Linked DNA regions of Homo sapiens: regions 1 and 2 are each reported to be linked to region 3. The links are microRNA targets in miRTarBase. Many come from high-throughput screens and were not tested one by one. Region 3 holds a microRNA gene; each other region holds the end of a gene's coding sequence.
Evidence for each region. Region 3 holds the annotated microRNA hsa-miR-6855-3p (AGACUGACCUUCAACCCCACAG, at 1,016-1,037, shown strand). A microRNA usually pairs through its seed, bases 2 to 8, with sites in the 3' UTR of a target mRNA and lowers its output. Matches are read on the target gene's strand: a 7mer-m8 pairs with bases 2 to 8, a 7mer-A1 pairs with bases 2 to 7 and ends in A, and an 8mer does both.

Region 1 (3,000 bases), not on the chromosome of region 3:
TGTCCCAAATCATTTCAAAGACATGAAAAAACTCACACTGGAGAGAAACTCTATGAATGCAAGCAACGTTCAGTAGTTCCTTCAGTAGTTCCAGTTCCTTTTGATATCATGAAAGGACTCACACTGGAGAGAAGCCCTATAAATGCGAGCAATGTGGGAAAGCCTTCAGAGCTGTGTCAATCCTTTGAATGCATGGTAGGACTCACCCTGAAGAGAAACCCTATGAGTGTGAGCAATGACGGAAAGCCTTCAGATCTGCCCCACACCTTTGAATACGTGGTAGGACACACAATGGAGAGAAGCCCTATGCATGTAAGGAATGTGGGAAACCCTTCGGATCTGCCCAGAACCTTCGAATTCATGAAAGGACACAAACACACATAATGCACTCTGTAGAGAGACCTTATAAATGTAAGATATGTGGGAGGGGCTTTTATTCTGCCAAGTCATTTCAAATACATGAAAAATCTTACACTGGAGAGAAACCCTATGAGTGTAAGCAATGTGGGAAAGCCTTTGTTTCCTTCACTTCCTTTCGATATCATGAAAGGACTCACACTGGAGAGAACCCCTATGAGTGTAAGCAATTTGGGAAAGCCTTCAGATCTGTCAAAAATCTTCGATTTCATAAAAGGACACACACTGGAGAGAAACCCTGTGAATGTAAGAAATGTAGAAAAGCATTCCATAATTTCTCTTCTTTGCAAATACATGAAAGGATGCACAGAGGAGAGAAGCTCTGTGAATGTAAGCATTGTGGGAAAGCATTCATATCTGCCAAGATCCTTTGAATACATGCAAGAACACACAATGGAGAGAAACCCTATGAATGTAAAGAATGCAGAAAAGCATTCAGCTTGCCTACTTCCTTTCATAGACATGAAAAGACTCACACTGGAAGGAAACACTATGAATGCAAGCAATGTGGCAAAGCTTTCACTTCTTCCAGTTCTTTTCAATATCATGAAAGAACACACTAGGGAGAAACCCTATCAATGTAAGCAATGTGCAAAAGCCTTTATTTCTTCCACTTCTTTTCAATATCATGAAAGGACTCACATGGGAGAGAAACCCTATGAGTGTATGCCAAGTGGGAAAGCCTTCATTTCTTCTAGTTCCCTTCAATATCATGAAAGGACTCACACTGGAGAGAAGCCCTATGAATATAAGCAATGTGGGAAAGCCTTCAGATCAGCCTCGCACCTTCAAATGCATGGAAGGACTCACACTGGAGAAAAACCCTATGAATGTAAGCAGTATGGGAAAGCGTTCAGACCTGACAAGATTCTTTGAATACAGATAATGAATGTAAACAATTAACTGTTTATAATAACTGTATACTAACAAATGATATTCTTTTTAAATAAGAAGCTATAATATCCCATTGGTGTCATGTATTAGATCAGCCTTATACTGTTAAATTGTTATTATTTGGACATTGTGAGTCAGTATAACCATGTGGATAAAATGCCAGACATCTTTTTATTCGAAAATTTTACTTTTCATGCTTCTGTACTTACATTTTTATCTCAACCTTAATTTTTCTTTCTTTTTTTTTTTCCCCCAGAAAGAATCTCACTCTGTCACCCAGGCTGGAGTGCAGTGGCATGATCTCAGGTCACTGCAACCTCTGCCTCCAGGGTTCAAGCAATTCTCCTGCCTCAGTCTCCTGAGTAGCTGGGACTACAGGCATGCGCCACCATGCCAGGCTAATTTTTTGTATTTTTTAGTAGAGACGGGGTTTCACCATATTGGCTAGGCTGGTCTCAAACTCCAGACCTCATGATTTACCCACCTCGGCCTCCCAAAATGCTGGGATTACAGACATGAACCATCATGCCCAGCTGCAACCCTAATTTTTCATTCAGTCATAATACCAATAGTTATCTCATGCACCTCTGAGTGCCTTCTTCCCCAAAACCAGCAGTGCCATACCTGCTGTCAGCAAGGGTGTAATATACCATAGTGATAAATATGACCAAAAGCCATAAATGACTGTGAGATGTATGAGAATTACAAGTCACATTAGTAAGAAGAGAAAAATTTTGGTCATGTTTATGATTTGAAATACGTTTTCCTCTATCACATTTAAAAATATAGTTACAAAATGCCCTTGTTTTTGTCCTGATTCATCATGGTCACTGAGGAGCATCGTCTCATATGCCTGGTATGTGACACGTGTCTCTCCAACAATAAAAGACTTGGCCTTGGCTGGGCATGGTGGCTCACGCCTGTAATCCCAGCACTTTGGGAGGCCGAGGTCAGGAGTTAGAGACCATTCTGACCAATATGATCAAACCCCGTCTCTACTAAAAATACAAAAGTTAGCAGGGCGTGGTGGCATGCTCCTGTAATCCTAGCTATTCAGGAGGCTGACATAGGAGAATTGCTTGAATATAGGAAGCAGAGGTTGCAGTGAGCCGAGGTTGCACCATTGTACTCCAGCCTGGGCAACAAGAGTGAAACTCTGTCTTAAAAAACACAAAAAAAGACTTGGCCTTAGGGCCGAGTGCGGTGGCTCACGCCTATAATCCCAGCACTTTGGGAGGCCGAGGCGGGCGGATCACTAGGTCAGGAAATGGAGACCATCCTGGCCAACACAGTGAAACCCAGTCTCTACTAAAAAATACAAAAAATTAGTGAGGCGTGGTCTCAGGCTCCTGCAGTCCCAGCTACTTGGGAGGCTGAGGCAGGAGAATGGTGTGAACCTGTGAGGTGGAGCTTGCAGTGAGCCAAGATCGCGCCATTGCACTCCAACCTGGACGACAGAGCAAGACTCCATCTCAAAAAAAAAAAAAAAAAAAAAAAGACTTGGCCTTGTGGTGAGGGGAGGGCATCTGTAAACTCCTGGACCTGTTTTTGCCTTACTTATTCTCTAAAGACTAAAATATTTCCTAAAATGTACAGGCACTGTTTACCAGAAAGTACCTTAGTTAAAACATATAAATTTGTTTATGCCTTATAAAGCTATATTTTTTCAAATTGCTTTACTGAGTCATA
Region 2 (3,352 bases), not on the chromosome of region 3:
GTCCCTGGGACTGTTCTAAGATTAGGGTTTGGCAGGTCTGGGGCAATGATTGGGACTCTTCCACAAGCTCCTTTAGAGGGCTGTTAGGCTGGCAGGGTATGGGAACTCAGACATCGCACAAACCACAAGGTGTGATTAGCAGGTCATGGCCAAAGGGAACACAGAGGGGAATCTCAGCCCCCAGAGAATCTTAACCCAAGAGGAAAGAGACAAAATATGTGACAGGTCGGAGCCCGTTCGGGGCTCTGCTTCCCGATCAGATTGCTTCCAGGCCCCAACCCCACCTCCAGGGCTCGGGCAGCCTCTTGCCCGATGTGTGGCCCACTGGGCTGCCCAGTCCTTGGCCACTCCTGAATGGACGCAGTGTTCGATTTGTGCAGGCATAGACCACCACTTCCTACTCTGAGGATGGCTGATAGGTTTCTTTTCCTATTAGCACAGCAGCTTAAATGGATCTTTTCCCTTTGTGCTGACGGCCCTTCAGACGTGTCTTCTTGAAAGCCCTCCCTCAGCTGTTACATATATTACCCCCATTGACTTTGCAGTTGAGGAAGGAAGGGACTAAAAGATAAAATTGTGACACTAAACCCAATACACTTTGTAACTGTGAAAGAAAATAACGATAAGGGTGAGAGTACAAGGCAGAACTCCACTGGGCACCCTCTGTCTGCACAAGGCCTTTTATTCTGGTGTGTACGCTCTATCCTGCCCTTGCACGATTTTGGGTCCACTTTAAGGCTTATGTCTATGCTTTGTAAAACATCTAATTTTTGTGTGTGTGTGTTGAATCAACAGTGCAAAAGCAACTTTTTTCCTCCACAGGGTAGTGACCTGCTTAACAGAGGAGTTGCGAGCACACGTGTTCAGACACCTGGAGAGCTTAACGGGCTAGTTTCACACGGGTGCTAGGTCAAGCATTCATTTCTAGACTTGTTGCTCAAATAACCAAATTCAAGCAACACTCAGAACTTTCTCTGAACGCTATACTTGTGAATATTCACTTTTGGCAGGGGGTCTAAACTTTAGACTCTAAAGAAAACATACAATTAATCATTCACAACAGAGCAAAACGTTCACACTTTTTAAAAAGAAAATGATTTTTCAAACATACAATCCCAAATTGGGTGCTTTTTTTGGTATGAATCTTTATAAAAAGGAAGTTTGCTACCCTGGTGCGAGGCTTGGAGGGATGTTTCTACAGACTGTGCGAGTGAGGCAGCTGGATATTTGTGCGGGATCTCTTTGCAAATGAAGATCAAAGTCCAAAAGAAAAAAACAATTTCACTTTATTTTAAAGACAATGATTGGCATACAGAAGGTATGCACTCGCATAAAATAAACTTTCATGAAAAGCATTAAAATCCATTATAAATTAATTTATTAAATAGGTATTTGGTATATGTGATGGTTTTATTAGATATTACTCTTATTTATTGCCAACCCCTCCCCCAAAGTCAAAACAAATCAGAAAATCCCATAACTCCAATTTACACTAAATAATTTATTTTCCCAAAATGTGTATGTGTTCTGAGGCGTGACACATGATACAGTTCCATTGGTCATTCTCTATCAATCATAATATGACAGGACACAAGAGGCTAAAAATGGCTCATCATAATTTATTTTATGTTAAAATGTACAGCTTTTTTTTGTTTGTTTTTTGTTTTTTTGAAGTGACTGACTAAAAAGAGAACAGATAAATACAAGAGTGTCGCTGGATCCTATTTTATACAAGGATTACGCCTCTCCTGCTTGGCCCTTACTGTCACCCTGTACAGGTACAAAGGCTACAAAAAAGGAAGCAATATAAACAGACACAAATAACTTTTTTGCTTTTTTACATGCGATTTGTAAGCTTAGTTTGAGCTATTCACAAGCTACTTTTCTATTTTTCCTTAAAAAATAACTCCAATATTTTATAAAGATAGAAAAATCTACAGATGGAATGAAAATGTAAAGTTAGAGGCATTTCCATAAAATAGCAACTTTACACCAAATTCACTATTTTTTTTTAAATCCTGCCAAGTATTTGGACATATATGAAATGTTTCAAAACCTGACAGATAAACACTGAGATATGCTTCATTCAATAAACAGAAGTCTGCATTTATAAAACAGAAAGCTGCCTTTTTTCCCCAAAGAAATCTGTCACCAAAATGGAAAAGGGTCTCAACTTTACACCAAACATTTAGCAATAAAACCCTTTTGACTAACCAAATGGGAATAGCTTTTATAGCTCTTTACAGTTTTATAATTAACAAAAATATAGTTTTTTTTAAAACCCTCAAATTAGGGCACCCTAATCAAGGCAAAAAACTTAAGAAATGGCTTACTGTTAGCACAACACTTGTACAGTACTACAAAATGCACTGTCACTAACAAAGACATTAGCGGCATGCTGAAGTGTCACCTTAAACAAAATATACAATAACTGAAATGCTAAAGGCATTTACATGGAGTGGACAGGGAAGGGAAAAAAAAAGCTCTAGGTTCAATATTAAAACAGATAATTTGGGGGGGCTTGATATCCACATTGTTTAACAGAAGCAGGCACAACAAGTGGCTGCCTCCAAATTGTAGTCCAAAGAGAGGCCTTCCTTTGCAGAGAATTTTATATAAAAGTAACAGAAATGAAGGTACCAAAAAAAAGAAAAAGGAAAAAAAGAAAAACAACTTGTATAAGGCTTTCTGCTGCATACAGCTTTTTTTTTTTTTAAATAAATGGTGCCAACAAATGTTTTTGCATTCACACCAATTGCTGGTTTTGAAATCGTACTCTTCAAAGGTATTTGTGCAGATCAATCCAATAGTGATGCCCCGTAGGTTTTGTGGACTGCCCACGTTGTCTACCTTCTCATGTAGGAGCCATTGAGAGACTGTTTGGACATGCCTGTGTTCATGTAGCCGTGATGTCCGGGGGCCGTGTACATCATGTTACCGTGGGGTGGGGTCTGCATTGGCTGCTGGGCATATGGCTGGGTGCCCATCATGCCCATCTGCATCTGCATAGGGTATTGGGGCGTTTGATTCATATAGCCATGATTGCTGTGGTAGCCACTGTTCATCATTGGCTGGGACATGCTGTACCCATTCATGGCGTTGAGAGTGTTCATGTTCATGTTCACAGAGTTGACATTGTAGGCTGGCGCTGGCATCAGGTTCACACTCATGTTCATGCCTCTTTGCATCGTTAAAGTCCGTGCAGGACCCTGCATGGCTACAGTCTGGGAGCGCCCATAGATTTGTGACTGATGGGTGGCAGCGGCTGGTGACAGAGACGCTGACTTGGTTCTCATGGAGATGTGGCCCTTGCTGGCAATCTGGGTTTGCAGTCTTTGGCTGTGAGAGATGC
Region 3 (3,307 bases):
AGCCCAATTCAGAGCCCTCTCCCAGAGCCCTGAGCCTTCCAGCCGGACATGGATTGGACAGGTCTGCTCCGGCCTGTGTGCTGGGGCCAGGAGTGGGCACATGACAGAGGAGACACATTAGGGTCAGGCTTTCGTCCCTTTAGGAGGGGCTGGCAGGTCATCTTCCTGCCCACTCGTGGAGCTGGCCTGGCTGCCCTGGCCCAGCATGGTACCCTCTCTGCCCCCAGAGCCGGACAATGATGCTCACCTACGCAGCTCCTCTCGCCCCTGCAGCCCCGTCCACCACCACGAGGGCCATGCCAAGCTGTCTAGCAGCCCCCCTCGTGCAAGCCCCGTGAGGATGGCACCGTCGTACGTGCTCAAGAAAGGTTCGGGGGGCACGGGAGGGTGGGTCAGCTTGAGGCTGGGAGTACAGATTACGCCCGTAGCTGCCTTTCTCATGGCCCCCTGTGGCGGAGGGCCGGGCTATGGGCTCCTCTCAGGTACACCCCTGAGACACCAGTGTGGGAGCCACGTTTTGCAGAGGATGACACAGAGGCATGAGATGGTGAATTGCTTACCCAGTCATGTGACTCACGGATGTCACTCCACATCCTGTCAAAGGAAGCCGCAGGGCCCGCACCTCGCCCCGGCCAGGCAGGTGGAGGCTGGGCTAGTCCTGTGCTGTGTCCCCAGCCCAGGTATTGAGTGCTGGCAGCCGGAGGCGGAAGGAGCAGCGCTACCGCAGCGTCATCTCAGACATCTTTGACGGCTCCATTCTCAGCCTTGTGCAGTGTCTCACCTGTGACCGGGTGGGTGCCCCAGGGATGGGGGGAGCTGGGCCAGGCTGCCAGTGGCCTCAGCAGCTCTTGCCCTGACTGGGTGCAGGGTGGGCTCTCCACGGGTGCTCCCTGCTTTTATCCAGGGGAGGGCCCTGCCTGCGTGGATCCCGTGTCTATGGCCTGGGGAGTAGTCCCTCTGCCCCTCACCTGCTGCTTGGGGTTTGGGGTGCAGACATTGCCAGAGGATGGGCAGCAGACTGACCTTCAACCCCACAGGTATCCACCACAGTGGAAACGTTCCAGGACTTATCACTGCCCATTCCTGGAAAGGAGGACCTGGCCAAGCTCCATTCAGCCATCTACCAGAATGTGCCGGCCAAGCCAGGCGCCTGTGGGGACAGCTATGCCGCCCAGGGCTGGCTGGCCTTCATTGTGGAGTACATCCGACGGTGCGCCCACCTTGCCACTACTGGGCGACATGGGCTGGGCCTGTCCTGGTTTTCCTGGGCGGGAGACAGTACACAGTGAAGTCCATGCATTTGGGGAACCAGGGAGGTCCTGGGAGGAGCTGGGGGCCGAAGCCTGCAGAGGAGTTGGCTTAATATGCAGGGGATTTCTTGGCTACTTTGAAGTGGCCAGGATTGGATAGTCCCTTGGAGCTGGAGGGCGATGGACAGCAGGGAGGTGACCACATGGCAGGTTGAAGGGAGGGCAGCAGCAGGACACAGGCCTGGTTGGCGGGAAGGGCAGCAGCTTTCCCAGGGCTGCCTCTCCTGCCTGAGGCCAGAGACCCGCATGACCCCAGGGAGGGGGTAGCATGATCATGGCCGCAACACAGATGAAGGAGGCCAGGCTTGCGGAGAGATGATGTCACTCGGCCCAGGACACGGACGTGTCTGGCTCCAGGCCTCTGCCCCGACCCGCCGTGCCCGGCTGCTTCTCTGGGCCTTCAGGGTCCTTCTGCGGCTCAGGCCTGACAGACCTCAGCCAGAGTCCCTTCAGCTCCTGTTCTTGCCCAGGCCCTGGCAGCACCCCTGCACTCCTTTTCTGTCTGTAGGTTTGTGGTATCCTGTACCCCCAGCTGGTTTTGGGGGCCTGTCGTCACCCTGGAAGACTGCCTTGCTGCCTTCTTTGCCGCTGATGAGTTAAAGGGTGAGGGGCCTGGCTGGCAAGGGTCGGGGAGGTGGAGGGTTGTGGGGACGGGGATGTGCAGACCCCAGCAGGCCAGCATGCAGCCCAGGGCTTGTGGGATGCACAGCCAGGCTAGACTTGGCTTCCAAGGTTGATCCCATCAGATACCCACGCCCACTGCCAGCCACGCTGGACCAGGGCCATGTGCTATCCCAACCCCATCATCTTGCAGCTCTTGAGTGTTCACTTATTTTTATTTTTACCAATTTGGTGGGCAAAAATGATGTATGTTAATTTTTCATTTCCTTGATTACTGATGAGTTTCTACATTTTTTGTTAAATATACTGGCTCTATGTATTTATTTAAACATTGCCCATTCCTGTTCTTGTTCTTTTTCTCCGTTGGCTATTTGGCATCTAAACCTTTGGGAAAACTCTCTCTTTTTTTTTTATTTCCAATTTTCAATTGCGATAAAATACACAAAATGTAAAATTTACCACCATAACCATTGTAAATGCTGTTTTTAACAGAAAGTGCACAGTCGAGTAGTGTTAAATACATGCACATGGTCACGCAGCCATCCTCCCCATTCATCTCCAGAACTTTTACATCTTGCAAACCTGAAACTCAGTATCCGTGAAACAGCTCCCTACTCCCACCTCCCAGCCCCTGGCAACCTCCACATTCAAGTCTGTGAATGTGACTACTCTAAAGGCCTCATAGAAGTGGAATTATACAGTACTTGCCATTTTGTGACTGACGGCTTTTACTGAGCATAACGTCCTTAGGGTTCATCCACGTTGCAGCGTGTGTGTCGGAATGCCCTGCCTTTTGTATGCTGGTTATTTATTGTTCCATTGTGTGGATGGCTGGGGCCTTTCTGCTTATTCGTTCATCCGTCAGTGGACACTCAGGCCGCTTCCCTGTTAGCTATTGTGAGGAATGCTGCTCTGACCATGGGTGTGCACACCTCTCTTCTTTCATCCCTTTGGGTCTATGCCTATTTTTAATTTCTCGAGGAGCCACCGTACTGGGTTCCACAGTGGCCACCCCATTTCACATTCCCACCAGTGACGCACAAGAGTTCCAGTTTCTCCACATCGTCGTCCACACTCATTTTGTTTACTTTTTTGATGGGAGTCAACCTCATGGGTATGAGGTGGTATCTCATTGTGCGTTTTTTTTGTTTTGTTTTGTTTTGTTTTTGAGACGGAGTCTCTCTCTTGACGCCCAGGCTGGAGTGCAATGGCATGATCTCGGCTTATTGCAACCTCCACCTCCTGGGTTTAAGCGATTCTCCTGCCTCAGCCTCCCGAGTAGCTGGGATTACAGGCACATGCCACCACGGCTGGCTAATTTTTGTATTTTTAGTAGAATGGGGTTTCACCATGTTGGCCAGGCTGGTCTTGAACTC

Region 1: miRTarBase lists ZNF440 as a target of hsa-miR-6855-3p. Seed matches in the 3' UTR shown: 7mer-A1 at 1,865-1,871.
Region 2: the mRNA of KAT6B is a reported target of hsa-miR-6855-3p. Seed matches in the 3' UTR shown: 8mer at 1,675-1,682.

Annotation. Positions count from the first base shown.
Region 1 is chr19:11,832,581-11,835,580 of GRCh38, forward strand. It overlaps ZNF440 (zinc finger protein 440), which reads left to right. Exons shown (of 4, transcript NM_152357.3): 4 at 1-2,636. The coding sequence ends at 384. Among named protein-coding and RNA genes, the nearest start is that of ZNF439, 15 kb to the right of the region's middle.
Region 2 is chr10:75,030,541-75,033,892 of GRCh38, reverse strand. It overlaps KAT6B (lysine acetyltransferase 6B), which reads right to left. Exons shown (of 18, transcript NM_012330.4): 18 at 1,269-3,352. The coding sequence ends at 2,847. Among named protein-coding and RNA genes, the nearest start is that of SNORD172, 10 kb to the right of the region's middle. RefSeq lists enhancers at 599-648, 3,269-3,352.
Region 3 is chr9:129,868,635-129,871,941 of GRCh38, forward strand. It overlaps MIR6855 (microRNA 6855), which reads left to right and starts at 971; the gene lies at 971-1,037. USP20 (ubiquitin specific peptidase 20) reads left to right here. Exons shown (of 26, transcript NM_001110303.4): 12 at 228-368; 13 at 676-791; 14 at 1,038-1,210; 15 at 1,819-1,913. RefSeq lists an enhancer at 1,586-2,085.